Regions from separate parts of the Homo sapiens genome. Here region 1 is linked to region 2. The links come from fine-mapping of genetic effects on gene expression. Tissue or cell type: adrenal gland. Region 2 holds a variant in brackets; the other region holds the start of a gene. All regions are shown on one strand. Distances are from middle to middle.

Evidence for each region. PIP is the estimated chance that this variant, and not a neighbour inherited with it, causes the effect.
Region 1: it holds the start of ATAD2, and the variant in region 2 is the best candidate, but not a certain one, in a credible set for the expression of ATAD2 in adrenal gland (GTEx, PIP 0.53).

What each region holds. Positions count from the first base shown.
Region 1 is chr8:123,384,270-123,399,906 of GRCh38, reverse strand. It overlaps ATAD2 (ATPase family AAA domain containing 2), which reads left to right and starts at 3,460. Exons shown (of 28, transcript NM_014109.4): 1 at 3,460-3,720. The coding sequence starts at 3,550. RefSeq lists enhancers at 3,024-3,318, 3,334-3,503, 3,554-3,603, 4,374-4,513, 6,388-6,888 and a silencer at 3,764-3,943.
Region 2 is chr8:123,463,803-123,479,439 of GRCh38, reverse strand. It overlaps a transcript of NTAQ1 not described here. Among named protein-coding and RNA genes, the nearest start is that of NTAQ1, 55 kb to the right of the region's middle. RefSeq lists an enhancer at 1-240. The variant AAAAAAGG/G (reference allele first, on the strand shown) is at 8,523.

The DNA of each region.
Region 1 (15,637 bases), 80 kb after region 2:
CAGGTGTGACACATGCCTGGCCTCAGACCTTTCTTTCTTTCCTTCTTTTTTTGAGATGGAGTTTCGCTCTTGTTGCCCAAGCTGGAGTGCAATGGCGTAATCTCGGCTCACCGCAACCTCTGCCTCCCAGGTTCAAGAAATTCTTCTGCCTCAGCCTCCTGAGTAGCTGGGATTACAGGTGCCCGCCACCATGCCCAGCTAATTTTGTATTTTTGGTAGAGATGGGGTTTCTCCATGTTGGTCAGGCTGCTCTAGAACTCCCGACCTCAGGTGATACCCACCTCGGCCTCCCAAAGTGCTGGGATTACAGGTGTGAGCCGCCCCGCCTGGCCTCAGATTGACCTTTCAAGTCCACTGTATGTTTCTCTCCTCTTCCTTCAACCACTCTGTATCACATGACCCTGTTTCATTTTCTTTATACCACTTGCTATAATGAAGTTACCTTGTTTATTTACTTCCTTGTTTATCCACTGAGTACCTCTTAGAATGTAAGCTCCATGAACCTAGGGTTCCTGGTTCACTGCTTTACTCCCTGCACCTCTAACTATGCTTAGAATAAGATGGGGGCTCAATTAAAATTTCCTGAATAAACAAATCAAATGAGATGGTATATACAGTATATAGTCGTGTGGTTTTTTTTTTTTTTGAGACGGAGTCTTGCTGTGTCGCCAGGTTGGAGTGCAGTGGTGCCATCTCGGCTCACTGCAACCTCTGCCTCCCAGGTTCAAGCAATCCCCCTGCCTCAGCCTCCTGAGTAGCTGGGGCTACAGGCGTGCACCACCACGCCCAGCTAATTTTTTGTATTTTCAGTAGAGACGGGGTTTCACCATGTTGACCAAGATGGTCTCAATCTCTTGACCTCGTGATCTGCCCACCTCGGCCTCCCAAAGTGGGGGGATTACAGGCGTGAGCCACCGTGCCCAGCCATAAATAGTATTTTAAAACCAAGTAATAGTAAACTCTGCTACTTTTTAAATTTTTTAAACTGTACTACTTTAAATATTGTTCCTTTCTTTTTCACCTATGTTGGTTAAACAATTATTTTAAAGTTTTTTTCTATTGTAAAAGTGAAGCATATTCATGCAAGAAAAATCAGAAAAATTGTTTGGGCATGGTGGCTCACACCTGTAATCCCAGGCTTTGGGAGGCTGTGGTGGGAGGATTGCTTGAGGCCAGGAGTTTGAGACCAGCCTGGGCAACAGAGTGAGACCCCGTCTCTAAAAACAAATTAGCCAGGTGTGATGGCACACACCTGTGGTCCCAGCTACTAGGGAGGCTGAGGTGGAAGGATTGCTTGAGCCCTGGAGGTCAAAGCTGCAGTGAACCGTGGCTGCGCCACTGCACTCCAGCCTGGGTGACAGAACAATAATCTGTCTTCCTGGGGACGGTAGCTCACGCCTGTAATCCTAGAACTTTGGGAGGCCAAGGCAGGTGGATCACCTGAGGTCAGTAGTTCGAGACCAGCCTGGCCAGCATGGTAAGACCCCATCTCTACTAAAAATACAAAAATTAGCTGGGCATGGTGGTGCACGCCTGTAATACCAGCTACTCTGGAGGCTTAGGCAGGACAATCGCTTGAACCCGGGAGGCAGAGGTTGCAGTTAGCTGAGATCATGCCACTGCACTCCAGCCTGGGCAACAGAGCAAGATTCTGTCTCAAAAAAAAAAAAAAAAAAAAAAGAACAAGAACCTCTCTCAAAAAAAAAGCAGGACTCCCAGTTAAATGCGAAGTTCAGATAAACAACAAATACTTTTTATATGTCCCCAGACATTGCATTCTTCATTCAGCAGCCACGCAGATTATTTTTAAAGTCGGAATAAGTCAAACCTCTGTTCAAAACCCTGAGATGTCTTTTCATCTCAGGGTTTGGATGGGAATTTGGGGGCTATAATAAAAGCCCTCAAAAGTTTCAAACTAAGACCCAGAGTCCCGTAGGACCTGCTCCCAGTGGCTCTGTTCTCATTGGCCTCGCCACTCTCCCCTTCCTGCTTCCCGCCTCTCTCTTCTTCCAGAACCATCTAACCTTTAGGCCTTTGTCAGACTTCTCAGCCAGACCTTCCCTAATCACCCTATTTTAAATTGCACTCTTCCCTCCCCCTTCCCTACTTTATATTTCTCTGTAATGCTTGCCACTTTAAAACTTTTACATTTAGTTTATTGTCTTTCACCTTCCACTAGAGTTTAAGTTCCATTAGGGCATTTTTGTTCTTTTTATTCACTGCTGCATCCCCAGTGCTTAGAATAATGCCTGGTACATAATAGAGGCTCAATATGTATTTAACAAATATTAAATTAATGAACTGTAGTTATCCAAATCAATAAATAGCTTTCGTTTATTTCGCTAAGAGCCCTCGGACATTCTGATCATTCAGCGTGTTACCTATTTCAAAGTAGTCAAGTAACTGCCATCTTAGAGAAGCCATCTTCTTGTATTCTGTGATAATAGCGAACGCTTATTGAGCACTTATTATGTGCAAGCACGGCTCCAAGGTATCATAATAGTACTTTAGGGCCTTAGGTATTACAATCGGAGTTACTTTCCGATTATATGTACATTCCGAGATACGTATAAAAAGTATTTGTTCTTTATCTGAACTTCACATTTAACTGGGAGTCCTGCTCTTTTTTTTGAAACAGGTTCTTTTTTTTTTTTTTTTTTTTTTTTGAGACAGAGTCTTGCTCTGTTGCCCAGGCTGGAGTGCAGTGGCACGATCTTGGCTCACTGCAACCTGTGCCTCCCGGCTTCAAGCGATTCTCCTGCCTCAGCGTGTGAGGAAATTAGAATGCAGGGAGGTGAATAATTTGTTCGAGATCTTCTATGTGGGATGATCAATGGCAAAGATGGGTACAGAACCCGCGTCCTTAACTAAACGATGGCACTCTGCTGGCTCGCTTTTAGCTCCTTGTGTTTTCTTTCTTTTTGGTGGTTAACTTGTTTTCGTCAAGCCCTCAATTATTTAAAAAAAAAAAAAGTTCTTAAGGCTCAAAGTCAAAACCTGTCAAAGGCCAAGTGCTTTATTTCCCTCCAGTCAAGGACTGGGCATTTTGCATTTGAATCCTGGATGGCGGGAAGCAGCAAGCAGGTGTCAACAGGGGTGGGGAGGAGACGCCGGACCCCACCAGCCAATCAGAGCGCGCAGAGGCCTCCCTTCCCCCGCCGCCGTCCCGCGCCAAAATTCCAAACGGGCTACGCACCGCTCCCACCGTCTCCTTCCGCCGAGCTCAGCGAGCCGGAACTATGTGAAGAAAAAGAAGTCAGCGTTTTCCCCAGGACTCTCCGCTCAGGTCCTCTATACTGTCGGCCTGTGTTCCTCTCCACGTTGGCCCGGCCTCCTTCGCTCTACAAATGGGAGGAGAGTTTCGAGCCTGCTGTTCTACGGTGGTGGCGTGGGCGGGACAGACGGCGGAGGGATTCTGGGCGCGCGCGCTGCGGCCGCTGGCGCGGAGCTTGTGGCGCCAGAATTCGGAGCGCGGAAGAGCCAGAGCTGCGAGCGCCTGGAGCTGGATCTCTCTCCGGTCGCGCACGCCGAGGCCAGTAGGGAGAGAAGATGGTGGTTCTCCGCAGCAGCTTGGAGCTGCACAACCACTCCGCGGCCTCGGCCACGGGCTCCTTGGACCTGTCCAGTGACTTCCTCAGTCTGGAGCACATCGGCCGGAGGCGGCTCCGCTCGGCCGGCGCGGCGCAGAAGAAACCCGCGGCGACCACAGCCAAAGCGGGCGTGAGTACGGGCCTGAGGCGGGCTCCCAGGGCGGTTCCCGGGGGGACTGCCGGCAGCCCGGCGCTCGGAGGGGCCTGGGGGTGGGCGGCGCCGGTCAGGGTGACAGTTGTCGGGGGAGAAGTGTGGTCGAGGACGAGTAAAATGGAAGCTCTCGGGATCGGAGGTGCGGGTCGGATCGCTGAGCTGAGGCTGGCCGGGAGAGGACTAAGCATTTGGTCACCACCTACTTTTACGCAAGAGGAAATCGAAGCCCGCCACAGCGGAGTGCGGTCTGGGGCCAAGCCGCGGCTGTTCGGCCGCCCGCACGACCCCCCACTCCCTGGCCGATCGATCGCCCAGGCTCCTGCCCTAGGTTCGCATCAACCTGGAGGCAACACGCATCCCCTGACTGCTTTCTGTCTGCGCCATAAACGTTGGGGGGGAGGGGGCACAGGGACAGACAGGTTGTAATTCAGGTTCTCTGACCTCCATTAACGATCCAGAGGAGTTCCGTAATAACAGCGCAGTGAATAATACCAGGTTGCATAATGTGGAGGGATGAAGACCAACATTTCATGTACGCCCCCCGCTTCCAAGCCTCGTCATAACCCTTTGAGAATGCGTAGTTGTGCTATCTCTTTGACAGATGAAGAAACGGATTCAAAAAGGTAAACAGTAAGGGGTAGATCTAAAATTGGAACTCAGATTGCCTGCCTCCTAAATCGTTCCCTTTCTATGCCGTCATGCTGCAGTTACAAGCAGTGTCTATAGGGGAAGTTTGGAAGGAAGGAGGGTCCTCTTGAAAGAAGTGCTGCTTCTAGGTCTGAAGTGCAGTGACGGTTTTTGCAGGGCAGAGTTAAAGCTGAGCAGTTACTCCCCTCCCATCCACCTCCCCACCCCAGCTGCTGAAAGAGGCCTAGGTGGAGGGGTTTCAGCATTCACAGAAGGTTGAAGAAGTCGGGGAAGCTCGCTAGTAAATTTAGTTAAGGCAGCAAGTAATATATAGCTGGACTGAAGGTGTTGGAGTGAGTGAGGGTAGGCATGGAGTAGGAAAAATAGGACCTGAGAGAAGGTTGGGAACTTGGGAATGAGAATGAGAGGCTCAGGGGAAATGTGTGGTGGAAGTGACAATGTAATCCTCTTCAGTTCAGCAGACGATTTCAGGGTCTTGTATTAAGTCTTCTATTAAGATCTTGTATTTAGATAACTATATAAAATTAGTTGCCAGTATCTTTTGTGGGCATCCCATTCTGGTTGCTACTCTACTGAGGGGAATGGGTTAAAAACTACACTCCCTTCAGTCTCTGAAATTGTGATTCTGAATTGAAAAGACAAGTAATTTCCTGACTTTAAAGATTTGTTTCTCAGTCATCTGCCAGGAATTGGCAGAGACCTGGAGAGGCCAAACACTTCTGCACTGGAATTGGTTACTTGACTTAACCTGTGTTCAGAAAATGTGTTTCAATACTGATTGATTATTTATGTCCAGGGTAACACTAGATCCTGTGAACATAATGATACGTACTGATATATTGAATACTGGTTAAATACATAGGCTCTTTTTTTTTTCTTCGAGACAGAGTCTCACTCTCTCATCCAGGCTGGAGTGCACTGGTGTGATCTCGGCTCACCGCAACCTCAACCTCCACCTCCCGGGTTCAAGCAGTTCTCCTGCCTCAGCCTCCCAAGTAGCTGGGATTACAGACATACACCACCACGCTGGGCTAATTTTTGTATTTTTAGTAGAGACAGGGTTTCTGTATGTTGGCCAGGCTGGTCTCGAACTCCGACCTCAGGTGATCCACTTGCCTCAGCCTCCCAAAATGCTGGGATTACAGAATTGAGCCACCCTGCTTGGCCAAATACATAGACTCTTAAGAAAACTGTTAATTATGAATTTCAGTTTCAGCTTCTCAGGTTTACCAATAATCATCAGGTTTCTACACTTGTTAAATGGGATGATACCCACCACATTGGTAGTGAGGATTAAATGTGATCATGTATGTAAGGAGATTAATTGAACAGTTAGCATATGGTTAGGATTCAGTCATTGTCAGCTATTAAGACCATCGTCAGTTTTAGTTAATGGCCACTCCGTTTTTTTTTTTCAGTTCCTCAGGAAAAAAAACCTTAGGTTGTTGTTGACTCCTCACATCCAGTGCATTAGCAAATTCTGTTGGCTCCACTTTCAAAATATATTCCAAGTCTGACCACTTTATATGTCCTCCAGTGTTGCCATGCTGGTTCAAGCCATAATCTCTTTCCTGGATTATTTATTTATTTATTATTTTGAGACAGAATCTTGCTCTGTCACCCAGGCTGGAGTGCAGTGACGTGATCTCGGCTTGCTGCAGTTTCCGCCTCCCGGGTTCAAGTGACTCTCCTGCCTCAGCCTTCCAAGTAGCTGGGATTACAGGCATGCGCCACCACGCCTACCTAATTTTTGTGTTTTTGGTGGAGACGGTGTTTCACTGTTTTGGCCAGTCTGATCTCAAACTCCCGGTCTCAGGTGATCGGCCCACCTCAGCCTCCCGAAGTGCTGGGATTACAGGCATGAACCACCGCGCCTGACCATCTTTCCTGGATTATAATAGATTCTTGATTGGCCTCCTTCCCGTTTTCCACTGTTTGATATATATATTATGCCCCACCTTCCCTCAACAGTCAGTTCTCTTTATTTATGCATTTATTTATTTTTGAGACAGAGTCTTGCTCTGTCACCCAGGTTAGAGTGCAGTGGCACCAACGTGGCTCACTGCAGCCTCAACCTCCCAGGATCAAGTGATTCTCCACCTCAGCCTTCTAAGTAGCTGGAACTACAGGGGCTCGCCACCACACCCAGCTCATTTTTAAGTTTTTTGTAGCAATGGAGTCTCACTATGTTGCTCAGGCTGGTCTCGAACTCCTGGACTCAAGCAATCCTTCAGTTTCAGCTTCCCAAATTGCTGGGATTAAAGGTGTGAACCACCACGCCCCACCAATAGTCAGTTCTTAATGCAGTGAATCTTTTTTTTTTTTTTTTTGAGATGGAGTTTCGCTCTGTCACCCAGGCTGGAGTGCAGTGGCCCAATCTCGGCTCACTGCAAGCTCCACCTCCCGGGTTCACGCCATTCTCCTGCTTCAGCCTCCCGGAGTAGCTGGGACTACAGGCACCCGCCAACACGCCTGGCTAATTTTTTGTATTTTCAGTAGAGACAAGGTTTCACCGTGTTGGCCAGGGTGGTCTCGATCTCCTGACTTCATGATCCGCCCTCCTCGGCCTCCCAAAGTGCTGGGATTAGAGGCGTGAGCCACCGCGCCCAGCAAATGCAGTGAATCTTTTAAAAAGTCAAAACAGTTGATCACTTAAAACCCTCTTGAGACTCCCTATCTAAGTAAAAGTCTGTAAGTTTGGAAGCAGCCCTAAGCATCCCTGCATCCTTTATAATGACATCTTTTTCTACCCCTTTACAAAACGCACTCTATTCCAGCCACACTGGCATAGCTGCTTCTTTAATACCAGGGCCTTTCCATTTGGTATACCTCTGCTGGAAATACTCTTCCCCTTGATATCTGCATGACCCATTCTTTTAACTTTTTTTTTTTTTTACATTATTTTAAACTAAAAAACAAAACCTCAGGAATTATAGTACTTTAGTGTGGTCCAGAAATTGTACAAATAAATAACTCAGTCCTTACAACCTTATGAGGTAGGTAAGATTTTTTTTTTATGAGAAAACTGATGCACAGAGACTTAAATAAATTGCCCAAATTCACCTTATAGTAAGCTGTGTGACTATGATTCAAATTTAGGAGTCTGTCTACCTCAAGTCTTTGCTAAAATTTCACCTTTGCAATGATGTTTACCATAAGCACCATATTTAAAATTACAAACCACTCTCCTGACATGCCTCTCCTAGCACTTGTCACCTTCCAACATTTTCTGTACTTTTCTATTTTTAAGTATTTTTCTCTCTTCCCCAATCAGAATGTAACTGCACGGGGACTTGGATTTTGACTTTTTTTTTGGCAATGTTATCCCAGCACTTAGAACAGAACCTAGCAGGAAGTAAGTGTATATTAAATATTTGTTGTTGATTGTTCTTACTCTAAAGAGATACAAGTCTAGCAGAGGAGACCTAACAGCAATATACAGAGACTATTTGCCATAAATCCCGTATTTGTGGTATATGGTGGTTGAGCAATTAGAATGCACTCTGCTGGATGTTGTAGGGTAGAAAGGATCCCCCTCAACCCCCACCACAGTTCCCAGCAGGCATTATACCTTTTTGAGACAAAGTTCTCCTCCCTTTTATACATCAAGGTGTCTGTGTAGACCAAATTATAATCACAGTGTTACATAATGAGCATGGGATTGGATTAAAATAAATCGGTGGTCTTTAGGGGTAATGTATTCATACTGACAAGCCCATCAGTACCAAAAATGAAACATGCCTCTGTAATTGGAATATTTTCTGATTTGGGGGCTTTACATTCAATACATTTGGTTGGATTACACCTTGCTGTTTTACATCAATCATGCATTTCAGAGACTTCACTCCCTGATCACCCTGATTATATTTGGATATTTCTTAGTTTCCTCAGCCACATATTTATTGACAGAGCATTTCTTAGGCTAGGCTGCTTTTATGGGTGGTTACATTTATTCATTTAATTCATTAACTTGAATTTTTCCTAGTCTAATCTCAGGCTGACCTTTTTTTTTTTTTTTTTTTTTTTTTTCAAAACTTCTCATTACCTCTGATCAGGCTGATCTTATCTTCAAGTTCTGAAGTTACTTTTAGTCACCTATTTATTAACTACATTGTATTTTTATATTTTGAATATGTTCTCATTCAGCTGGGCTTATAGATTTGTGTTTTTGTTTTTTCCTGACTTGTATGGGTTCCCTGAATATTGTGGTGGTGGTGGTCTAAGTTTGTTTTTTGTTGTTTTTTTAAAACTTCTATTTTCATCCTACCAACTTTATGACTATGGATATCTTTTCTGTAGTTTCTTTTTCTTCCAGAATCAGAGTAGCCATTGTCTATTTCTGTACTTTCTTTGTTTTCTAAGGTCTGAGGTTCTTTGGTTTCTGTAAATTTAGGGTTGTTTCTCATGTTGAAGAGTCACTTAAGGATGGATAGTAGGGTGTTTTTTTTAAATTGATGATGATCGTACATTACTTTTGGGTTTTTTTTTTCTTTTGAGACTGTGTTTTGCTTTTGTCGCCCAGGCTAGAATGCAGTGGCGCAATCTCTGCTCACTGCAACCTCTGCCTCGTGGATTCAAGCAATTCTCCTGCCTCAGCCTCCGGAGTAGCTGTAAGCGCCTTCCAATTACAGGCGCCTGCCACCATGCCCAGCTAATTTTTGTATTTTTAGTAGAGACGGGGTATCAAACTCCTGACCTCAGGTGATCCACCTGCCTTGGCCTCCCAAAGTCTGGGATTACAGGCGTGAGCCACTGCGCCTGGCCTACTTTTGGGTTGTTTACCTACATTTTTACTTTTCTGTGTGTTAGGTAAAATAGAACATTCTGCAGTATGTAGAAGGTACTATTTTAAAAATTGTATGTTTATTTGAAAGTCTGGAAAGATACTCAAAACTCAACACCAATATGTGTAACATACAGGAGATTTTAAAAACTTAAAGCATAACACAGTACAGAAACATGAAAAGTATATAGCTTAATGAAGTATCACAAAGCATAGATAGGGAGCTTCTGGGTGTGGCAGTGAATGGTGTTCCCTGGAATTGGGTGACATGGCAGTTCTGTATTCAGTCATAAGCAAGAAAGGGCCCTTGATTTTAGGTTTAGAGGTTACAGCTTTATGTGGGAGACAGTGAAGAGCTAGAACAGGGATCTGATGAGACAGTGTTTCGGATGGATTATAGTTAACAAAAACCTAGAGCTAAGAAGACCAGTTAAAAGATTATAATGGTAGTCTGGGTGCAGTGGCTCATGCCTGTAATCCTAGCACTTTGTTTGGGAGGCCGAGGCAGGCATATCACCGGAGATCAGAAGTTCAAGACCAGCCTAGCCAACATGGTGAAATCCCGTCTCTACTAAAAATACAAAAATTAGCCGGATGTGGCAGTGTGCACCTGTAATCCAAGGTGCCGGGGAGGCTGAGGCAGGAGAATTGCTTGAACCCTGGAGGCAGAGGTTGCAGTGAGCCGAGATTGCGCCATTGCACTCCAGCCTGGGCAAGAGAGCAAGACTCTGTCTAAAAAAAAAAAAATATATATATATATATATATATATAAAATAATAGTAATAGCTACCACTTATATAGCAGTTGCTGTGTACCAGGCATAGTACTTGATAAGACACATATATTTCTCCTGTTTATAAACTATTATTATCCTCATTACTAGATTCTTAGTATCTAGTATCCATATACTAAGTATTCTAGATTCCTAGATCCTTAGAGTTTAAGTTAAGGTGGTATTAGTAGGAATGGAGAAAAATGTCCAATAATACAGCACAGGATCTGAGAGTTGTTTGAACACAGGGAGGGAAGACGTTGTTTCCAGCTAAAGAAGTGAGCAGTAGACCATTGGGAGTTTTGTTTTGTTTTGTTTTTGAGACGGAGCCTTGCTCTGTCGCCCAGGCTGAAGTGCAGTGGCGCGATCTGGGCTCACTGCAAGCTCCTCCTTCTGGGTTCACGCCATTCTCCTGCCTCAGCCTCCTGAGTAGCTGGGACTACAGGCGCCCGCCACCACGCCCGGCTAAGTTTTTGTATTTTTAGTAGAGACTGGGTTTTCACCGTGATAGCCAGGATGGTCTCAATCTCCCGACTTCGTGATCCGCCCGCCTTGGCCTCCCAAAGTGCTGGGATTACAGATGTGAGCCACCACGCCCGGCCGACCATTGGGAGTTTTATGCCAGAATTGCTAAGAGGTTGGGACTGCTTGTCCTTGAGGATGAATAGAAAACAGCAAAGCACAGGCCGGGCACGGTGGCTCACACCTGTAATCCCAGCACTTTGGGAGGCCAAGGCGGGCGGATCAGGAGGTCAGGAGATCGAGACCATCCTGGCTAACACGGTGAAACCACATTTCTACTAAAAATACAAAAAAAAAAAAAAAATTAGCCGGGCGTGGTAGCAGGCTCCTGTAATCCCAGCTACTTTAGAGGCCGTGGCAGGAGAATGGCGTGAACCCAGGAGGCGGAGCTTGCAGTGAGCCAAGATCGCGCCACTGCACTTCAGCGTGGGCGACAGGGCGAGACTCTGTGTCAAAAAAAAAAAAGAGAGAGAAGAAAACAGCAAAGCACAAAAAGAATTAAGGAGGTCTGAAGCAATGCCTGTATTTTAAAGGTGAGAAGTTGAATCATGGAACTAAGAGTATTAAGTAAACCAAGGGACCGAAGCATTTTAAGAAAGTACTGGCCAGGCACAGTGGCTCACACTTCTAATCCCAGCACTTTGGGAGGCCAAGGTGAGAGGATCACCTGAAACCAGAAGTTCGAGACCAGCCTGAGCAACATAGTGAGACCACCCCCCCGCCCCCACCATCTCTAAAATAAAAAATAAAAATTGGCTGGGCATGGTGGCTCACACCTGTAATCCCAGCAGTTTAGGAGGCCGAGGCAGGTGGATAACTTGAGCCGAGGAGTTCAAGACCAGCCTGGGCAATGTGGTGAAACCCTGTCTCTACAAAAACCAGCTAGGTGTGGTGGTGCCTGCCTCTAGTCCCAGCTACTCAGGAGGCTGAGAGAGAGAATCGCTTGAACCCAGGAGGCAGAGGTTGCAGTGAGCTGAGATCGTGCTGCTACACTCACTGCACCCCAGCCTGGGCGACAGAGCAAGACTCCGTCTCAAAATAATAAAATAAAATAAGATAAAATACATAATCAGTAGCCAGGCGTGGTGGCACATGCCTGTAGCCCCAGCTACTACCGGGGAGGCTGAGGCAGGAGGATCTCTTGAGCTCAGGAAGTTGAGGCTGCAGTGAGCCATGATTGTGCCACTGTACTCCAGCCTGGGTGAAGGAGCAAGATCCTATCTCTAAAAATAAATAAAGAAGGTAGTGATCAGTTCTGTAGAATTCAGTGAGGTAGAGAAAAGGCTATTGGATGTAGCTATTGGGAGACAGTTGTGAATGTACTGAAAGAGCTGTGGAGGTAGAAACTAAGTTGGAGTTTACCGAGTAGATGGTGAAGTGGTTTAAACTCATGTTTAAAGACAAAACTAAGGAAGGATATCACAACTATAGTGATATAACATGTATATCATGTATTAGAATATACTGTTGTTTAAGTTTTCAGGGAGCCCTAAATTTGTGTTGAGTACATCCTATTTCAACCTCATTTGTTGATATTTGAATTGACTCAAACAACTGACCTCCCCCCCAAACATGCTTTTTAAAAAATGAATTTAAAGCTTGAATAAGCTTGGTCTTCTGTGAAAAATAACATAGAATATTTTTATTATGCAACTGTGTATACTTTAGGAAAACTTTTTTGTTATTTTATTGCTGCTTTTTCTCTATGTTAACTTACTGATTCTGCAAGGTTGTGAGAAACTTAAAATTTAACAAAATACTAACATTTCCTCTCTTAAAACTTCACTTTTAAAGAACTATAAGTGCTCTCAATATTTAAGTAGATTTTAGCCAAAGAATAAATGAGAATATTACATCTCTAGGTTAAAATTTCAGACTAAGTTTGTTTTCTCTTTGTTTTTTAGTTTTTAGGAATTTTTTTCTGGTAATACATGTGAAAATGTGAAAAATAGAAAGTGAAAGTCCCCATCTCTGTCATCCAATGTTAATTACTGTTAACAGTGTTGAACTTACCTCTTGGGAATTAGATGACTTCGGTTTAATACCTGTGCTAGTCTTCCTTAGGAAAGAAGATATACACAAGATAATTCATCTAGAGATATTTATAACATCAGAAAAAATTGCAGGCAACCTAAATATAATACATTCAGCAATTTGTTAAATAGATTCATGTAATGGCTGAAATACTATTCATTCATTAAATTTTTAGAGTAATATTTAATGACATGAAAAAATATTGATATTACTAGAAAAAACTTATAAAACATATAGTATTATCTCAGTTTTAAAATCATGTAAATATGTTTGCATAGGAAAAAAATGGTTTTTGCACCAAGAGATTAAAAGAGGTTGTCTGTGAGTGGCTGAAATTAAGGGTGACATTTTCATTTTTCCAGTAATAATGGGCATGTATTGCCTTTATTTTTATATTGCTTTTGTTAGAACTGTTTTTGAAAGATGCATTTAAAAATTTTTTAGTGTATACTCTATATAGAGGACTCCCACATAATTTTTTTTTTTTTTTGCCCACATTGTTGAGTCTTTCTTGCTGCCTAGTACTTATTTGGAGAGAATGACAAGCCGTTCACTATGCACATCAAAGATTCTCTTATACCACTTATAAGATTGTCTTCCAAGTTTCTTAGGAAATGTTTTTTCCTAGTATTGTCCCCATCCACCCCTTTTCTTGTTTTGTAAGGAAACAAAATCTTTTTTTATCCTCAGGAATATGGTAGCATTTATTTTCTTTTTTAATGTACCAAAATATACATAACATAAAATTGACCGTTTTAACCGTTTTTAAGCTTACAGTTCATTAAGTACATTCACATTGTTCTGCAACCATCATCACCATTCATCTCCAGAACTTTTTCATCTTCCAGAATTGAAACTCTGTACCCATTAAACACTTACTCCCAGTTCCTCTCTCCTCCTAGTCCCTGGCAACCACTGTTCTACTTTCTGTCTCTGAATGTGACTGTTCTCTGAATCTCATATTCCTAGACTAATCATATTTGTCTTTTATGACTTGCTTATTTCACTTAGCATATCTTCAGAGTTCATCCATATTGTAGCATGTGTTAAAATTTCCTTTTTTAAACAAGAAGGAATAATATTCCATTGTATGTACCATGTTTTGTTTGTCCGTTCATCTGTCAGTGGACACTTGGGTTGCTTCCCCTTTTGGGAATTGAATAATGCTGCTGTGAACATGAGTACAAATATTTGTGCAAGTCCCTGCATTCGCTTCTTTGAGTGTATACCCAAAAGTGGAATTGCTGGATCATATAGAAATTTTGTGTTTAACTTTTTGAGGAATTGCCTTACTATTTTATGTTACCACCAGCAACACACAAGGATTCCAGTTTCTCTACATCCTCACCAACAATTGCTATTTTCTCCTTTTTTTTTTTTTTTGTGAGTAGCCATCCTAATGTGTGTGAAGTGTTATCTCTGTGGTTTTGATTTGCGTTTCTCTAATGACTAGTGATGTTGAGCATCTTTTCATGTGTTTATTGGCTATTTGTCTATCTTTGGAGAAATCTCTATTCACATCTTTTGCTTATTTTTTAATTGGTTTGCTTGTTTTGCAAAGGAGTTCTTTAAATATTCTGGAGATATATATATGTATGCGTGTATATATGTGTGTGTGTGTATGTATATATAAAACCTTATATACCTTATCAGTATATGATTTGCAGATTTTTTTCGTATTCTGTAGGTTGCCTTTTCACTCTGTTGATAGTGTTCTTTATGCATAAAAGGTACTCATTTTGATGAGGTCTAACTTACATATTTTTATTTTGTTGTCTGTGCTTTTGGTGTCATCCAAGAAATCATTGCCAAATCCAATGCTGTTTTCTCCTAAGAGTTCCTAAATTGTTTTTTAGTTCTTTATTCTCTCATACAGTTTTAAGTTATCATCTCAACTTCCCCCTCATTTATTTCTTTCAAAGGATGTAATTTCTGTCATCTTTTGATGTTGACATTAAAAAGAATAAAACTATTATGTCAGACTTTACCTGTATCCACTGCAGTCTAAAAACCAGTTGATATGTTTTGAAACATTTAAAAATAATAACATGAGCAAACTCTTAGCAAAGTTTACCTTGATTCTTTTTTTTCTCTCTTTTAATTTGCATTTTCAGTCCACTTAACCCACTGCATTTTATGGTGATGTGAAATTTTTTTCTATACAAGCCATTTATTTGAAATGTCTACTATATGTAAGACAGTCAGTGTTAGCATGCTCATCAATAACAGTAGAAAAATAGAACCAGTGGAAACCTGTATAGCTGTAATGGTACTCAAAAGAGAATTGTATCCTTTTAAAATGTTTTACACAGGTGAATTCAAGTTTGGAGGTACCTAAATAAAAATATTACATATTTCTTTAAAAACGTTTATATACAATTAAAATATAAACAAGTTGTACAAAGTACTGGTTATGCAGGTTGTAGACAACACTTGAATGGGACATGAAATCAGTTTAAGAAAAATGTCTGAGCCTTAGTGGGCTTCTGAGCGCCAAGAAATAAAATGTTTGTGGGTAGAGTTGTTAGAATTAATGCTCTGTCAATCAAAACAAGAACATATTATCTACTTGGATTTGAAATGATAAAACTTAGAAAGTAAGATTTTAAAAAATTGTTTCGCTAATCTTTGTATCGTTCCAATTTTGTGAGCAAGAAAAGTAAGATTTTAGGAGATCTCACATGGTTGAAGTTCCCTTACCCACCCAATTAGTTCATGTGTCTGTGGATGTATCATAGTTATTGCTAAAGACAGTGTTCTCTTGAAAATGCCTTGCATGGGCCTGGCACATGGGTGCTTATTACATACTCTTGCTTTCTTGCCTCTGGGTTGGGGAGGCACTGCACTGCAAAGGGAGCCCCTCCATTCTGAAGACATTGCTAGGGGAGAGTCTGGACTTCTACCTGTGACCAGAGTGAAGGGAAAATTCTTGCCTTGTCAGAGATGGATCAATGACCATGAAAAATCTACCCTGTGATCTTTTTCAGTCTAAGCATTAAAAGCTCCTAAAGCAAAACAAACAAACAAAAAATCAAGACTGTGTTTTTGTGTATCGGTTGCATTGTTTTTATAAATGTAAGTATTGTTCATATAAATAAGTAGACAGTAATAAAAGGAGTTATGCTTAGCAGTGC
Region 2 (15,637 bases):
GGGCATCGAATGGGGAACAGCAGCTAGGGCTCCTCCTGGGGCCGATCTAAGGGTCCTCGGAAGAATGGCGTGTCCATGTGTGGTTCAGTTTACAGCACTATTTGGAAATTGATTCCTTCTAGGAGAGAAGAAACAATTTGAGTTATAGTATTGTGTATGCAGGGTCCAAATATCAATACAAGACATAAAAGCAAGAGAGGGCTTAATAAAGGGGTTAACCGATTCCATAAAGAAGACTGGAATTTATTAAAGAGGCATTGTAGCCACTCGGGACTGAAGCCAGCATTTTCCCTGAGCCTGTCGATATTTTTCTATTTACCATTTTCAATACATGCCATGTGTGAAGAAGCAGAATCTGCGCCTGCACCTGCACTACCTTTACCCCACCTTTATATGCAATGACTCAGCCAGTGGCACAATAAAAGCCCTGCTTTCACCTTCATTCCAGGAGACACTACTTTGGGAACTGTCCCCAGTGTTCTTACTTGTTGCAAGTACTAAAACCCCATTGTTACATTCTCCTTCATTGTGGTCACTGGGTTCACAATAGCCCTACAAGGGTATAGCATACCAACTAAGAACATATGTTATATGGAATCATATTGATTTAGGTTCAAATGTCAGTTGCTACTCTTGCAAATTCCTTGTCTGTACTTTCATTTCTTCATCTGTAAAGATGTTCACCCACCAAGCAACTGAACCCAACCATTATATGGGTAACAATCCTCCAGCTCCTCGAACTTGTCAAGCTCTTCCCCACCTCAGAGCTTTTGTGTGTGTTGTTCCCTCTTCCTAGGTTCTTTCCCATCATCTGGTCTTAAATGTCACCTACTACAGGAAGCCTTTCTTTACTACCCCATACAAAGTAGGATCCAGACCCTCCTCCCCATGTCCCAACTCCATTACTCTGTATCTTAACTCTTTGATTATTTTCTTGGTGGCACTTATCATAATTTGCAAAGATTTCTTTTTATTTTTAATTCTCTACTAGACTGTAAATTCCATGAGCAAAAGGATTAAGTCTTACCTAATATTGTGTCCCTACAGGCTTTGAGTCTGAGAAAGCAGGCATTTGGTGCAATATTTGTTACATACGTTATATGGTCATTTTATAGACTCTATGAAGCAATGGTTAATACGGTCAACATTGCAGACTTTATCTCAGTGTAGACCAGTTTCCTTTACTTGTTTACAAACTCTCTAACCCAATCAACTGTCACCATTATTGTATCTTCAGCCTCACTGAAATGCTGCATAATATAAATATATTTAGCACCAATCATCACTACTGCTATTCAATTCTTTTCAAATAATTAGATACTTAAGAGCATTAAGTGCTGCGTGTCTTATTAATACGTCAAGAGGATGAGTAGCATCACCTACTTATATGAAAAACCAGCATTATTTTGCTTACACATGTAAATAATACCTGGAATTAATTGTGATGCTTATCATGGACCTGGGCCTTTGATAAGTTTGTTACATACATTACGTTGTGTCCTGTAATCTTCACAACAGCCCTACAAGGGTATAGCATACCAAGTAAGAACATAGGTTATAAAATCATACTGATTTGGGTTCAAATGCCAGTTATGCTACTGTTGCAAATTCCTTACCTTCTCTGTGCTTTCATTTCTTCATCTGTAAAATGGGGGCAATAGGCTGGGCGCACTGGCTCACACCTATAATCATAGCATTTTGGGAGGCCAAGGTGGGCAGATCACGAGCTCATGAGTTTAAGAACAGCCTGGCCAACATGATGAAACCCTGTCTCTACTAAAAATACCAAAAAAAAAAAAAAAAAAAAAAAAGGTAGGCGTGCTGGTGCATGCCTGTAATCCCAGCTACTCGGGAGACTGTGGCACAAGAATGGTTTGAACCTGGGAGGAAGAGGTTGCAGTGAGACAAGATCATGCCATTGCACTCCAGCCTGGGTGACAGAGAGAGACCCTGTTTCAAGAAAAAAAAAATAATGGGGGCAATAGTAGTAAACACACCTTAGGAATGATTGCTCTGAGGATTAAATAAGATAATGCATGTAATGTGCTTAGCTCAGTGCCTGACACATAGAAAAGTGTTCCATAAATGTCAGCTGTCTCTTCTTAACTTGCTCTTCTGAGGGTCATTTTATGTCCTAAAGCATCAATGTGTCCAGCACAGAGGGAGAATGAGTTCCTGCCCTTTAGGATCACACAGTCAGAGATAGCTGGGAGCACGTTTGCAATCAGAAGAGGACAGCAAACATGTTCTTAGAATGGCTGCATTCACTTTTATGGTCCAAGCATAGTAAACTCATGTTCTCATTTCCTTTTCCACCAAAACAGCTATCTCTGCTCCCTGAAGAGGCCTTGGATTATTATAGTTCCTTAAATTCCCTGAAATTCTCAGGAGAGAAGGAATATTTTTTTAAAGCAAGCACAGCTTGGAGCTAGAAAACAAAAGGTTACTAGGACAATGTAACTCATTTCCTGTTTTTCTCAACTGTCTAGACACAGATCTCATAAGCATTAGCCATGAATCCCACCATCAGGTTAAAAATAGAAGGTTTAAATATGAAATGCTGTGGTGGAGGAAAGATTATAGGTTTCTACCTTTGTCCACAAAATGACTACTTTGAAATAGGATTTTTTACCTTTTTTGTTAGTTGTGCCATAAGTTTTGTGAAGCAATATTTCAATGGCAGGAATAGAGAACACCTTTTTTCTAAAGAATATATTTGCCCCTTGTAAAGCTAATGCAATTTAGGTTTTAAAAGCCACTTGAAGACAAGCTTATGGCAGCCTATCCAAACAAAAAATCTGATCACAATTATAGTACTTGAAACTTTTCAGGTTATTGCACATACCAACATTTAACCTTAAATAAATTTGTGCAACAGAAAATGCATACAGATTTGATTTTACTTTTTCTTTTTTTCTATCTTCTGCCTCCATAAAATTATTAGACAAGTATTTTGTTTTGAACACAGAATTACTCTGTAAAAAAAAAAAAAAAAAAAAAAATTTTTTGAGACAGGGTCTCACTCTGTTGCCCAGGCTGGAATGCAGTGCTGTGATCTCAGCTTGCTACAACCCCTCCCTCCAAGACTCAAGCAATCCTCCCACCTCAGCCTCCTGAGTAGCTGAGACTACAGGAGTGGACACAGCTAACTTCTTTTGTATTTTTTTAGAGACAGGTTTTTGCCATGTTGCCCAGGCTGGTCTCAAACTCCTGGACTGAAACGATCCACCTGCCTCAGCCTCCCAAAGTGCTGGGATTACCACTGTGAGCCACTGCACCCAGCCTGGAAAACAAATTTTTAAAAACTCCTTTAATAATCCATAGGCATGCTGGGCATGGTGTCTCACACCTGTAATCTCGCAACTCAGGAGACTGAAGTGGGAGGACTGCTTGGGCCCAGGAGTTTGAGGCCAGCCTGGGCAACCTGGCAAGACCCCATCCCTAAAAATAAATAAACATATAAATAAAATAATCCATTGGCAGTGTCACACAAGTGTGGAGGATCTACAATGCTGTTTCCCAAACTTATGGAACCGCAAAACCCTTTGATCAGGATAATGCTATTAACAACTCCTAAAATAGTATTCCATGGAACACCAGTTTAGGAAACATGAATTGGATAGTTCCATGATTTCTTTTTCTGGTTCCAGAATTACATAAGGCTAGGTCTCTTCTCTGACAACCTCAGCTATCTGAATTACAACATAAAACTTGAAAGTAAACAAGTACTAATGACTCTGCAATAGTGTAATGGACCTACTCTCTTTATTATTAGGAGATAAGTAGAAGTATGCCTTAGAGATATTCACACATTTACCTTTGAATGTATTCATTGTGGTCCTTAATAGTTATACAGATATATGTTGAAATAAACATAGATTTATAACATATGTATAATTTTATAATACAGAAATTTAAAATTATACAATTTTATAATTTACAAATATAAACATATGTATGTGTGTTAGCATACCTGCATATATTTCCAAACTCTGTCCACTGAGAGGACGCAGAAGCAATGAAACCCCAGTAGCAATGAGACTACTCAATGCCAAGATCTTGGTTCCTAAGTCCATTTTCCAATAAAAGGAATCAGAGTTCTTTGGAGAAAAGATCAATTCCATGGTTGGGGCAAAGAAAGTACAAGATGAGCCTAGATTAAAAAGTAAGCATCAAAAAGCAAGAAAGCACTAAAAATAATGAGGCATGTTGAAAGGATACAGGAGCCAACCTGTTTAAGCTCCTAATGCCCAGAGCTGGAACCACTGGAGCAACAAAATAAATAATGACAGTGTTCGATTATAACCCATAAAATAAAATAAATATTCATCAGCCCATATTGATATAAAAAAATAAATGAGGGAGGAGAATAACTCTCTCTTAGAGAAGAATTCCTATTAATAGAGAAGAAATGAAGGAAACAGAAAATCACTAATAGGCAAATGCCATAGTAATAATTGTGGCAGGCAAGAATCATCCATAGATGCTAAAACTAGTGGGTGAAGGTACAAGAAACAGGATATTTGCATAGTTTTGTTTTTGTTTTTGTTTTGAGACAGAGTTTTGCTCTTATCCCCCAGGCTAGAGTGCAATGGCAGGATCTCGGCTCACTGCAACCTCCTCCTCCTGGGTTCAAGCTATTCTCCTGCCTCAGCCTCCCAAGTAGCTGGGATTATAGGCGCACACCACCACTTTTTGGTAGAGACAAGGTTTCACCATGTTGGCCAGGCTGGTCTCGAACTCCTGACCTCAAGTGATCCGCCCACCTTGGCCTCCCACAGTGCTAGGATTACAGGCATACGCCACCACGCCTGGCAATATTTGCGTAGTTTTAAAGTATTTCCCCAAGATATCTGTTAGTCACTGAGGGAAAAATGGTAATTTAGTGGAGAAACCTGGAAGACACCACTTTAACCCAGAGATCAATGTTAATTTCACCAGTAATAATATATACTAGCATTGTGTACTTCTGGATATGGTGTATGAGAAAGGACACAACATTACTTCTGAGGTATTCTTGCCAAAATTGTATTATCTCAATTTAATCAGAGAAAATACAGACAAAGCCAAATTGGAGGGCATTCTACAAGGTTACTGACCAGCTTTCCTCAGAAGTGTCAAAATCATGAAAGACAAGGAAAAACTAAGTTATAAAAGACTAAGTTTGTCTCCTTCTCATAACTAAGTTCAATTGGAGATCAAGGTTTGGATCCTGGATCAGAAAAAACCGTTAATGGGAAAACCTGCAAATTCAAGTCAAATCTATAGTTTACTTAATAGTATTGTAGCAATGTTAATTTCCCAGTGTTGATCATCATACTGTGCTTATGTAAGATGTTAAACAGTAGGGGAAGCTGGGTGACGAAATATATGGGAATTGTCTGTACTATTTTTGTAACTTTTTTAAGACAAATTATTTCAATTTTTAAAATAACAAATATGTTCACAAGTCAAATATGTATAACTCAGTGTCTTGCATACCAATGATATTAATAATAACAGTAATAATAATAACAATGCAATTTAAAAAAAAAACTTTTACTTCCTGACTAACCATAATGTACCAGGAGCTTTTATATGTGCTCTTTCCTTTAACCTTCACAATTAGAGGTCATAAAGTTAAATAACATAAACAAGATGATATTTCTAGTGAGTGGCAGAGCTACAATGTCAACTTTTGTTATAACCTAGCAGAGAAGATCAAAGTAAATTACTTACCGCTTGAAAGAGACCAAATAGAAACCTAAAATTACGTGGGAATGTTGAATATATGTGCTACATGATTTCTGTTTCTTGCTCATCGTCTAAGACTTCAAGGCATGTCAACAATGTAGAAATTCAAAAATACAGGCCGGGCATGGTGGCTCATGCCTATAATCCCAGCACGTTGGGAAGCCAAGGCCAGATCAGTTGAGGTCAGGAGTTCGAGACCAGCCTAGGCAACATGGTGAAACCGTCTCTACTAAAAATACAAAAATTAGCCAGGTGTGGTGGCATGTGCCTGTAGTCCCAGTTACTTGGGAGGCTGAGGCAGGAGAATTGGTTGAGCCCAGGGCACGGAAGTTGCAGTGAGCCAAGATCGCGCCACTGCACTCCAGCCTAAGCAACAGAGCAAGACTCCATCTCAAAAAAAAAAAAAAAGAATTTCAAGAATACAAATTAATTAATACCCTAGGTGAGTAATGGATGCCTTACTTTCTAAATGATTTTCTACAAAAGTCCCTCAGGGCTGTATGCCTTGGAAGATTTTCCCAGACACTTTCTTACACATTGATTTTGTGATCGGTTGTATGTGATTTAATAATACATGCAACCACCAAATGAGACAAGTTTCATTTTCTCCATTTTTGCAAAAAAAGTAAACTAACTCTCAAGGAGATTGAGAGACCTTCCACTGAACACCTTCCCATCCCCTCACCCCAACAGTTAACAGTTAACAATGGGCATTTTTCTCCATTCAAATGAAGGTAAACTAATATCCAGGGCATCCTTGGATAAGAAAATAGGCGATGAAAGGAAAGAGGGAAGAGGGCAGAGGGGAAGAAGGAAGACACTTTGGCTAATGAGTACACATGAAAGCTCAGCTCAACCACTTAACAGTGATCTGGACAAGTTACTCTCCCTGCCTCTTTCTCTTCCACAGAAAAAGAGTTTTAGTATAGGGGGTTGAATAGCATCTCCCTCAAAATGCATGTCTATCCAGAACTTTAGAATGTGACATGTTTGGAAACAGGGTTTCTGCAAATGTAATTAACTTAAAATAAAGTCATGCTGGATTATGGTGGACCTTAAATCCAATGACTGCTGTTTTTATAAGAGAGGGCACACAGAGAAACAGAGGGAAGGCCATGTAAAATGGAGGCAGATATTGTGGGGAGCCAGCTGCAAGCCAAGGAACACCAGGATTGCCAGGAACCACCAGAAACTAGGGATAGGCAAGGAAGGATTGGACACTTCAGTCCCTGGACAACTTCAGATGGAGCATGGACCCTGTGACACCTTGATTTTAGACTTCTAACTTCCAGAACTATGAGACAATATATTACTGTTGCTTTAAGTCATCAAGTTTGTGGTAATTTGCTGACATCCCTAGAAAATAAAGTAAGCAAATGGGAAGCCATGCCTGTAAAGTGACCAGCAGAGGGCAATTAATAACCCATGAGCCATTTCACCCACTCTGCTTTAGTAAGGAGGAAGGGCAAAGGAGGTCAGGGCTAATTACACATTTCTTAGCTTTGGATATTTTTTAGCACTGTTTGGCATACTTCCTTCCTTTCTGTCCCCACTCACAACTCTCCTGAGTCACTGCCCAGCTGCCAGCAACCCTAAAATCCTGGAAAATAGCCTCTGCCAGCCTTGATGGATAGGAGTGGGGTAAGACCCCTATCAAATAACAGTACAAAGCAACAGGTACAGATTTGAATTAAACTTTCTATCTCTTCAACTAAAAAAGTTCTCTAGGCATGATTATTACTTTTATGGGTTGAATTGTGCTTCCCAAAAAGATATTTTAAAGTGTGATGGTTAATTTTACGTGTCAACTTAACTGGGTCATGGGGTGCCCAGATATTTAATCAAACATTATCCTGGGGGTTTGTGTGAGAGTGTTTTTGGATGAGAGTAACACTTATATTGGTAGACAGAGTAAACCAGATTACCCTCCCTAATGTGGGTGGCCCTCATCCAATCATTGAAGGTCTAAATAGAATAAAAAGCTCATTCTCCCTTGAGTAAGAGAGAGTTTCTCCTTGACTGCCTTTGAGCTGGGACATTAATTTTTTCCTGTCTTTGTACTTGAACTGAAACATCAGCTCTCCCTGGGTCTCAAGCCTGCTGGACTTCAGACTGAAACTATACCATTAGCTCTCCTGGATCTCAGGTCTTTGGACATAGCCTGGAACTAAACCACTGGGTCTCCAGCTTGTTGATTCACTATGCAGATCTTGGGACTTTCCAGCCTCCATAATCATGTGAGCCAACTCCTTATAATAAATTTATTTCTATCTATAGAGACGGAACCATCCTATTGGCTCTGTTTCTCTGGAGAACCCTGACTACAACAAAGTCCTAATACCCAGTACCACAGAATGTGACCTTACTTGGAAATCATGTTGTTGCAGATGTAATTAGTTTATTTGAGATGAGGTCACAGTGGAGTAGAGTGAGCCTTTAACCTGGTATGACTGATGTCCTTATAAGAGGAAGCAGAGGCAAGGCATGGTGGCTCACACCAGTAATCTCAGCACTTTGGGAGGCCAAGGCAGGAGGACTGATTGAGCCCAGCAGTTCGAGACCAGCCTGGGCAACATAACAAGACCCCGTCTCTACCAAAAAAAAAAAATCTTTTTTTAATTTGCCAGGCATGGTGGTGCATGCCTGTAGTCCCAGCTACTTGGGAGGCTGAGGCAGGAGGATCACCTGAGCCCAGGAAGTCAAGGTTGCAGTGAGCTATGATCATGCCACTGCACTCCAGCCTGAGCAACAGCGTGCTATCCTGTCTCAAAAAAAGAAAAAAAAAAAAG[AAAAAAGG/G]AAGGAGAAACACACAGGGAGAGGATGACGATATGACTTTGGAGGCAGGGATGGGAGTGAAGCATCTACAAGCCAAGAAACACCAAGGATTACCACCAAACACCAGAAGCTAAAAGAGGCAAGAAAGGATTCTCCCCTCTAGTTTTCAAATGAAGCATAGGCTTGATGACACCTTGATTTTGGACTTCCAGCCTCCAGAACTGTGGGAAAATAAACTTCTATTGTAAAAACAACTGGGTGTTTAAAAAGCACCCAGTTTATGGGACTTCATGCACAGCACTAGGACACTTATACAATTACTTTTTAAAGGTGGTGTGTCTGGCCTCCAAAAGTTGTCTTATGAAATAAGTGAATACAGTCAACACAGGTTCACTTTTAAGCACCTACCTGGTTATTCTCCACTTACACACTCCACTATTCTCACTCTTTGGGACACTGACTCCTTCAGACACCTGGTTGTAACCCTCAGCCTGTAGGGCCTCATCCCTTTTATTCTCCAGTTATAAAATGCGTCCATCTCATCAGTGATTTGCCCTTAGCAAAGATAAGTGAACACAGGGACTGCGGAGGCCACGGTAACAAGTTCACGAACCCTTGAGAGGATGAACAGCATCTCACTGTCCCTTATGCCTTGTATTAGTCTGTTTCGGCTGCCATACAAAATACCATAGACTGGGTGGTGGCTTAAACACAGGAATCCCAGCTCTGAAGCCTGGAAATTTCAAAATCAAGGTCCAGCAGGCTTCAGTTCCTAGTGAGGACCCTCTTCTTGGCTTGTAGATAGCTGCCTTCTTACTGTGTCCTCATGTGGCAGAAAAAGAGAAGAACCTCTCTTGTCTCTTTTCTTATAAGGCCACTAATCCCATCATGGGGACCACACCTTCATGACCTCATTTATATCTAATTACCTCCCAAAAGCCTCACTTCCAAATACCATCACATTGGGCGTTAAGGCTTCAACATGTACATTTTGGGGGACACAAACATTTAGTCCATAACATGTCTCCCCAAACTTCTAGCAGAGGGAGGGCAGGCAATACATGTTTGTTGATGCTTCTAACGGAAGACGAGATTCTGCATAGACTCACAGACAGCAGAGACTTGCCTCTTATACACACCTATATTGCCTTGGCTAGTTAGTGCCCAGAACATAGTAGACGTTTGATAATCACTTTTGGTGAATGAATTAGTAAAACAACTGCTGCTCTTTGGCATTGATGGCATTTGAAGAAAAGGTTTAACTAGGTCTCCATCTAAGTCTCAAAGTTTTATTCACATTTTAGTATTTTTATTTTGACCTCTCCACCTCACTCAAAAGATCAGTACATGCTCCCAAATCTATCTTATAAAAGAAGAATTCTGTTATTTTGTTATTTTTCCTGCAGTTAAAAAAATTAACATTAGAAGGGAGAAGACAAACAAAAAGGAGTAAGTTCACATTATCAGTGGGATCTTGGATTCCATGGTGTAGGTAAATTTGTAGGGCTGTTTCACAGGATGAATAACCAGCCTAGTCTCTTGTCTGTAAGCTTGACCAAGGCTTACTTTTCCAAGATGTTAAAGTTCACTCAAACCGTATTTCCTCCTACAGGCTTAAACAAATGAAAAAACATATTTCCAATGATTTCTTGGTATGACACTAAATGCATAGGCAACAAAAAGCAAAAGTAGACAAATGGAATTATATCAAACTTAAAAACTTTTGTGCACCAAAAGATACAATCAATATAGTGAAAAGGCAACTTATGGAATTGAAGAAAATATGCTCATATAATACATCTGAGAAGGGACTAATATCTAGAATATATAAAGAATTCCCTCAACTCAACAACAAAAATCAAATAACCCAATTAAAAAACGGGCAAAGTACTTGAACAGACATGTCTCCAAAAGTGATATACAAATGGCCAACAAGCACATGAAAAGATGTTCGCATTACTAATCATCAGAAAAATGCAACTGAAAACCACAAGGAGATATCACCTCACTCCCATTAGGATGCCCACTATGAAAAGAAAGAAGGGAGACTGTATAACAAGTGCTTGCTGGTAAAGACATAAAGAAATTAAAACACTTGTGCACTGTTTGTGGAATGTAAAATGGTAGAGCCCATGGAAAACAGAATGGAGGTTCCTCAAAAAATTAAAAATAGAATTACCAGCAACTATATGACCAGCAATCCCATTCCTTGATATATATCCAAAAGAACTGAAAACAAGATCTCACAGAGATATTTGCACATCTATGTCGCTTGCAGTATTATTCACAATAGCCAAGAGGTGGATGGAACCTAAATGTTCAGTGATGGAAAAAATGATAAAGCAAATGTGATATATACATACAATGGAATATTATTCAGTCCTTCAAAATAAGAAAATCCTATCATACACTATAACATGAATGAAACTGGAGGACATTAAGCTAAGTAAAATAATGCAGATAAATGCTTTATGATTCCACGTATACGAGGTATCTAAAGTAGTTAAACTGATAGAAACAGAAAGTAGAATGGCAGTTAGTGGGGGGATATGGAGAGAGGAAAATGGGGAGTTGTTTGATGAGTACAGAGTTTCCATTTGCAAGATGAAAACTTCTGGAGATCTGTGGCATGATGATGCAAATATACTTAACACTACTGTACACTTTAAGATAGTGAGTTTTATGTTATATTTTTACCATAAATAGATAAATACATAAATAAAGTTTTGAATTTATTGGTGCTTAGGGTAGGAGGAAGCTTATTCCCTACCCCACTACCCCCTTTGGGGGCCACGCAAGAATCCCTATCTCCTGAGGCCCTTTCCCAACTCACCTCCTGACATCATGGTGGGCATCTCCTTGATCTGGCCTCCTGCTTCAGTTTGTTTACCTCTCATTTAGAGATCCTGAACCTCCAGCACTTTGGGAGGTGAAGGCGGGTGGATCACTTGAGGTCAGGAGTTCGAGACCAGCCTGACCAACATGGCAAACCCTGTCTCTACTAAAAATACAAAATTAGCGGGGAGTGGTGGCTGGCGCCTGTGACCCTAGCTACTTGGGAGGCTGAGGCAGGAGAATCGCTTGAACCCGGGAGGCAGAGGTTGCAGTGAGCCGAGACCGTGCCATTGCACTTCAGCCTGGGCAACAAGAGCAAAACTCCATCTCTAAATAAACAAATAAAATAAAAATAGATACCTTGAACCTGTCTCTCATATTCACTGCTCCTCTGGCCCTTGCCTCTCCCTTTCTTCCTTGCTCACAATTCTACAGGATTTGGTCTGGTTCTAACTGCTCCAAGGAACCCTCTGGAACCTGGATATGAATGGCCAGTAATTAATTTATGAAATCAGACCCTCAGCTACATTCTATACTCAAGATACTAAAGCCAAGCTTAAAGACATTGATAAAACACTTAATGCAAGAATTATTTTATGAAAACACTTTAAAAATTATTTCAAACATCAAAATGGTACTTAAATCCCATTACATTAACAATCTCATAACACTATCTCATGCCATTGAATATGTGATAAAACCTTCATACAATATCTGGTGGGAATGTAAGTTGGCACAAACATTTAGAAAAGCAATTTGGCGGCCGGGCGCAGTGGCTCATTCCTGTAATCCCAGCAGTTTAGGAGGCCAAGGCAGGTCGATCACTTGAGGCCAGGAGTTCAACACTAGCTTCACCAACATGGCGGAACCCCATCTCACTAAAAATACAAAAATTAGCCGGGCATGGTGGTGCATGCCTGTAGTTCCAGCTGAGGGAGGCTGAGGATCACTTGAACCCAGGAGGCGGAGCTTGCAGTGAGCCGGGATCACGCAACTGCACTCCAGCCTGGACAACAGACTGAGAAAAAAAAAAAAGGAAAAAGAAAGAAAGAAAAGCAATTTGGAATATGTTTCAAGAACCACAAACATTTCCTGGTCCTTTGACCTATTAATACCATGCTCAGGAATTTGCTCTAAGGAAAATTATACTATTAAAAAAAGAACTTATATATAGAAGATGTTTATTTCCAAGTTATTTATGTAACTGATAGGGTAACATAATCAAAATGCCACTTTATTGTTTTTCTTCCATCATCCCTTTACTGTAAAATGGTATCGCCCATGGAAAACAGAATGGAGGTTCCTCAAAAAATTAAAACTAGAATTACCAGCAATTATATGACCAGCAATCCCATTCCTTGGTATATATCCAAAAGAACTGAAAACAAGATCTCAAAGAGATATTTGCACATCCATGTATACAGTTTGCCAGGGGGGAAAAGGGAGGAGGGGCAGCAGGAGAAAAGAATCTTGTCCTCACTCCAGATGAAAACAATTGCAGGCTCCTGCCTGCTGTGTCACTTTCAAGTAATGACAGTCTGATGGTCACATCAAGTCACAAACATGGTCTTACTAGAGTAATTCAGTGAGTCAGTTCATTCTATTCATCAACAATTCCATTTTCACTCAAAAGATTTCTTCCCCTTCTTTGCGAGAGCTGGCAGTTCCCAGGGAGGTGAGGGGAAAGTAGTCATTTTCTTCTGTCTTGCACCATGCGCCATAATCCTCCTCCACTCACTAGCTACTGGCTTGGATCCCATGCCCAAATGGACAGACGGCAAAGAGGTAAGTGGTTATGTCTGGAGCTACTTTAATTGGCTTCTGAGTGGCACAGTTGTAAGCTGACTTCCTGCTCACTGGGCTTTGCAGCTATATAAAGCTGCCTCTCACTTGGGGCACTTTTCTTGGGATCTTTGGTGATTCCCATCTCTGGGAACCTCTCCAGTTGTAATTCTCAGAACAAGGGAGAAGCATTCCATTCCAGCTGCTATTGCCCTCAGCCCCTGGTTCTCTGGCAATCCCGTCCACTCAGACTTCACTCTTTGGCTTCCTCTCACCCTCCCAGAGGGTCCTCTTGGACAGGATTTAAAATGACTTTCATGCAGAATGACAAACTGTGAATGGGTATACAACAGAATACAACTCTAAGTTATAGAGAAAGAATGAACTACTGACACAGGCAACAATATGGATGGAACTCAAAGATGTCATGCTGGCTGGGTGCAGTGGCTCACACCTGTAATCCCAACACTTTGGGAGGCCGAGGTGGGTGGATCGCTTGAGCCCTGGAGTTCCGAGACCAGCCTGGGCAACATGGTGAAACCCCATCTCTACTGAAAACACAAAAATTAGCCTGGCATGGTGGCGGGCGCCTGTAATCCCAGCTACTCAGGAAGCTGAGGCACAAGAATTGCTTGAACCCAGGAGGCAAAGTTTGCAGTGAGCCAAGATCGTGCCACTGCACTCCAGCCTGAGTGACAGAGCAAGACTCTGTCTCAAAAAAAAAAAAAAAAAAAAAAAAAGATGTTATGCTGAGTGAAAAAAGCAATCTCAAAAGGGTACGTACTATACAATTCCATTTACAGAACACTCTTAAAATGACAAAATTCTGGTGATAGAGAACAGATGAGTGGTCGCCAGGGGTTAGGGTTGGCAGGAGGGCCTGACTACAAAGCTTTAGTATGAGGGAGTTTCTCTGCAGTGACGGAAGCTGGTGACGGTGTCCTTGTTTTGGTAGTGATTACACATATCTATATGTGTGACAAGATTTCACAGTACTGTTTATACACATGCACACACAAGAGCATGTCAAAATTCATGAAAATCAAGGTCTATAGTTTAGTTCACAGTATTGTGTCAATGTCAATGTCAATTTCCTAGTTTTGAAAATGTACGGTGGTTCTACATTATCAATGGGGAAAGCCAGATGAAGGGTACATGGAACTCCCTTTTATTTTTGCAATTTCTTCTGAGTCTTAAATTCGTTCAAAATAAAAGGGTTTTAAAAATGGCTCTGGCTCAGTATCGTCTCTCCCCTGGGGCCCACACTTTTTTTTCCTGAGACAGAATCTGTCTCTGTTGCCCAGGCAGGAGTGCAGTGGTGTGATCTGGGCTCACTGCAACCTCCATCTCCCAGGTTCAAGTGATTCTCGTGCCTCAGCCTTCCAAGTAGCTAGGATTACAGGCGCATGATACCACACCCAGCTAATTTTTATATTTTTAGTAGAGACAGGGTTTCACTATGTTGGCCAGGCTGGTCTCGAACTCCTGACCTCAAGTGATCCGCCTCCCAAAGTGCTGAGATTACAGGCGTGAGCCACAGTGCCCAGCCAAGGGCCCACATTTAAGTCCCAGGAAACACTCTCTCATCTCTTGCCCCAACAAACCCTGGGAACACAGGACCAAACCCAGCCCTCTGTGTCCTGCTGCCACAGGCCACTCTAGCCAGTTACATATTTCTCAACCATAGGAAATATGTAAGTTAAATATGTGGTCCTATCAGAGCCCCCATCGTACCCTTGAGGTGAAGGTGGTAGCACTCCTGGCCCTTACCCCTGGGGAGGGAGAGTGGAGGCACAGCCTGGCAATGCTCTCTCCAGTGGCGTCTCTCTACCCTTCCTCCTCCTCATGCCGCTGCCACTCTGACCTCTCGTGTATTCAGTCTGAGGGCATCCAGGGTTAGGCAACATGTTCACGAGCATTTCCCTGCTGTTATGGATGCTGTGGTCCCTGCCCAAATATCCCCTTCAGGCCCTCATTTCTATTCCAAGTCTCTCTGAAAATTGCTCTAAGCTGAAGGGAGTTACCGTGATCACATCTCTGTCCCAGGGGCAACCTGCATCCATTGACTGGTCCCTTTAGGGGTATAAAGACCCAGCCTCCTTGCTCCAGAAGGGAACAACTCTGCAAGACCATCTCTATTAGTCTGTTCTCACACTGCTAATAAACACATACCTGAGACAGGATAATTTATAAAGGAAAGAGGTTTAATGGATTCACAGTTCCACATGGCTAGGGAGGCCTCACAATCATGGTGGAAGGTGAAGGAAAAGCAAAGTCACGTCTTAACATGGCGGCAGGCAAGACAGCATGTGCGGGGGAGTCCCCTTTATAAAACCATCAGATCTCGTGAGATGTATTCACTATCATGAGAACAGCACAGGAAAGACATGCCCCCATGATTCAATTACCTCCCACCAGGTCCCTCCCACGACAAGTAGGAATTATGGCAGCTACAATTCAAGATGAGATTTGGGTGGGGACACAACCAAATATCACCATCCCAGCTCTAGAG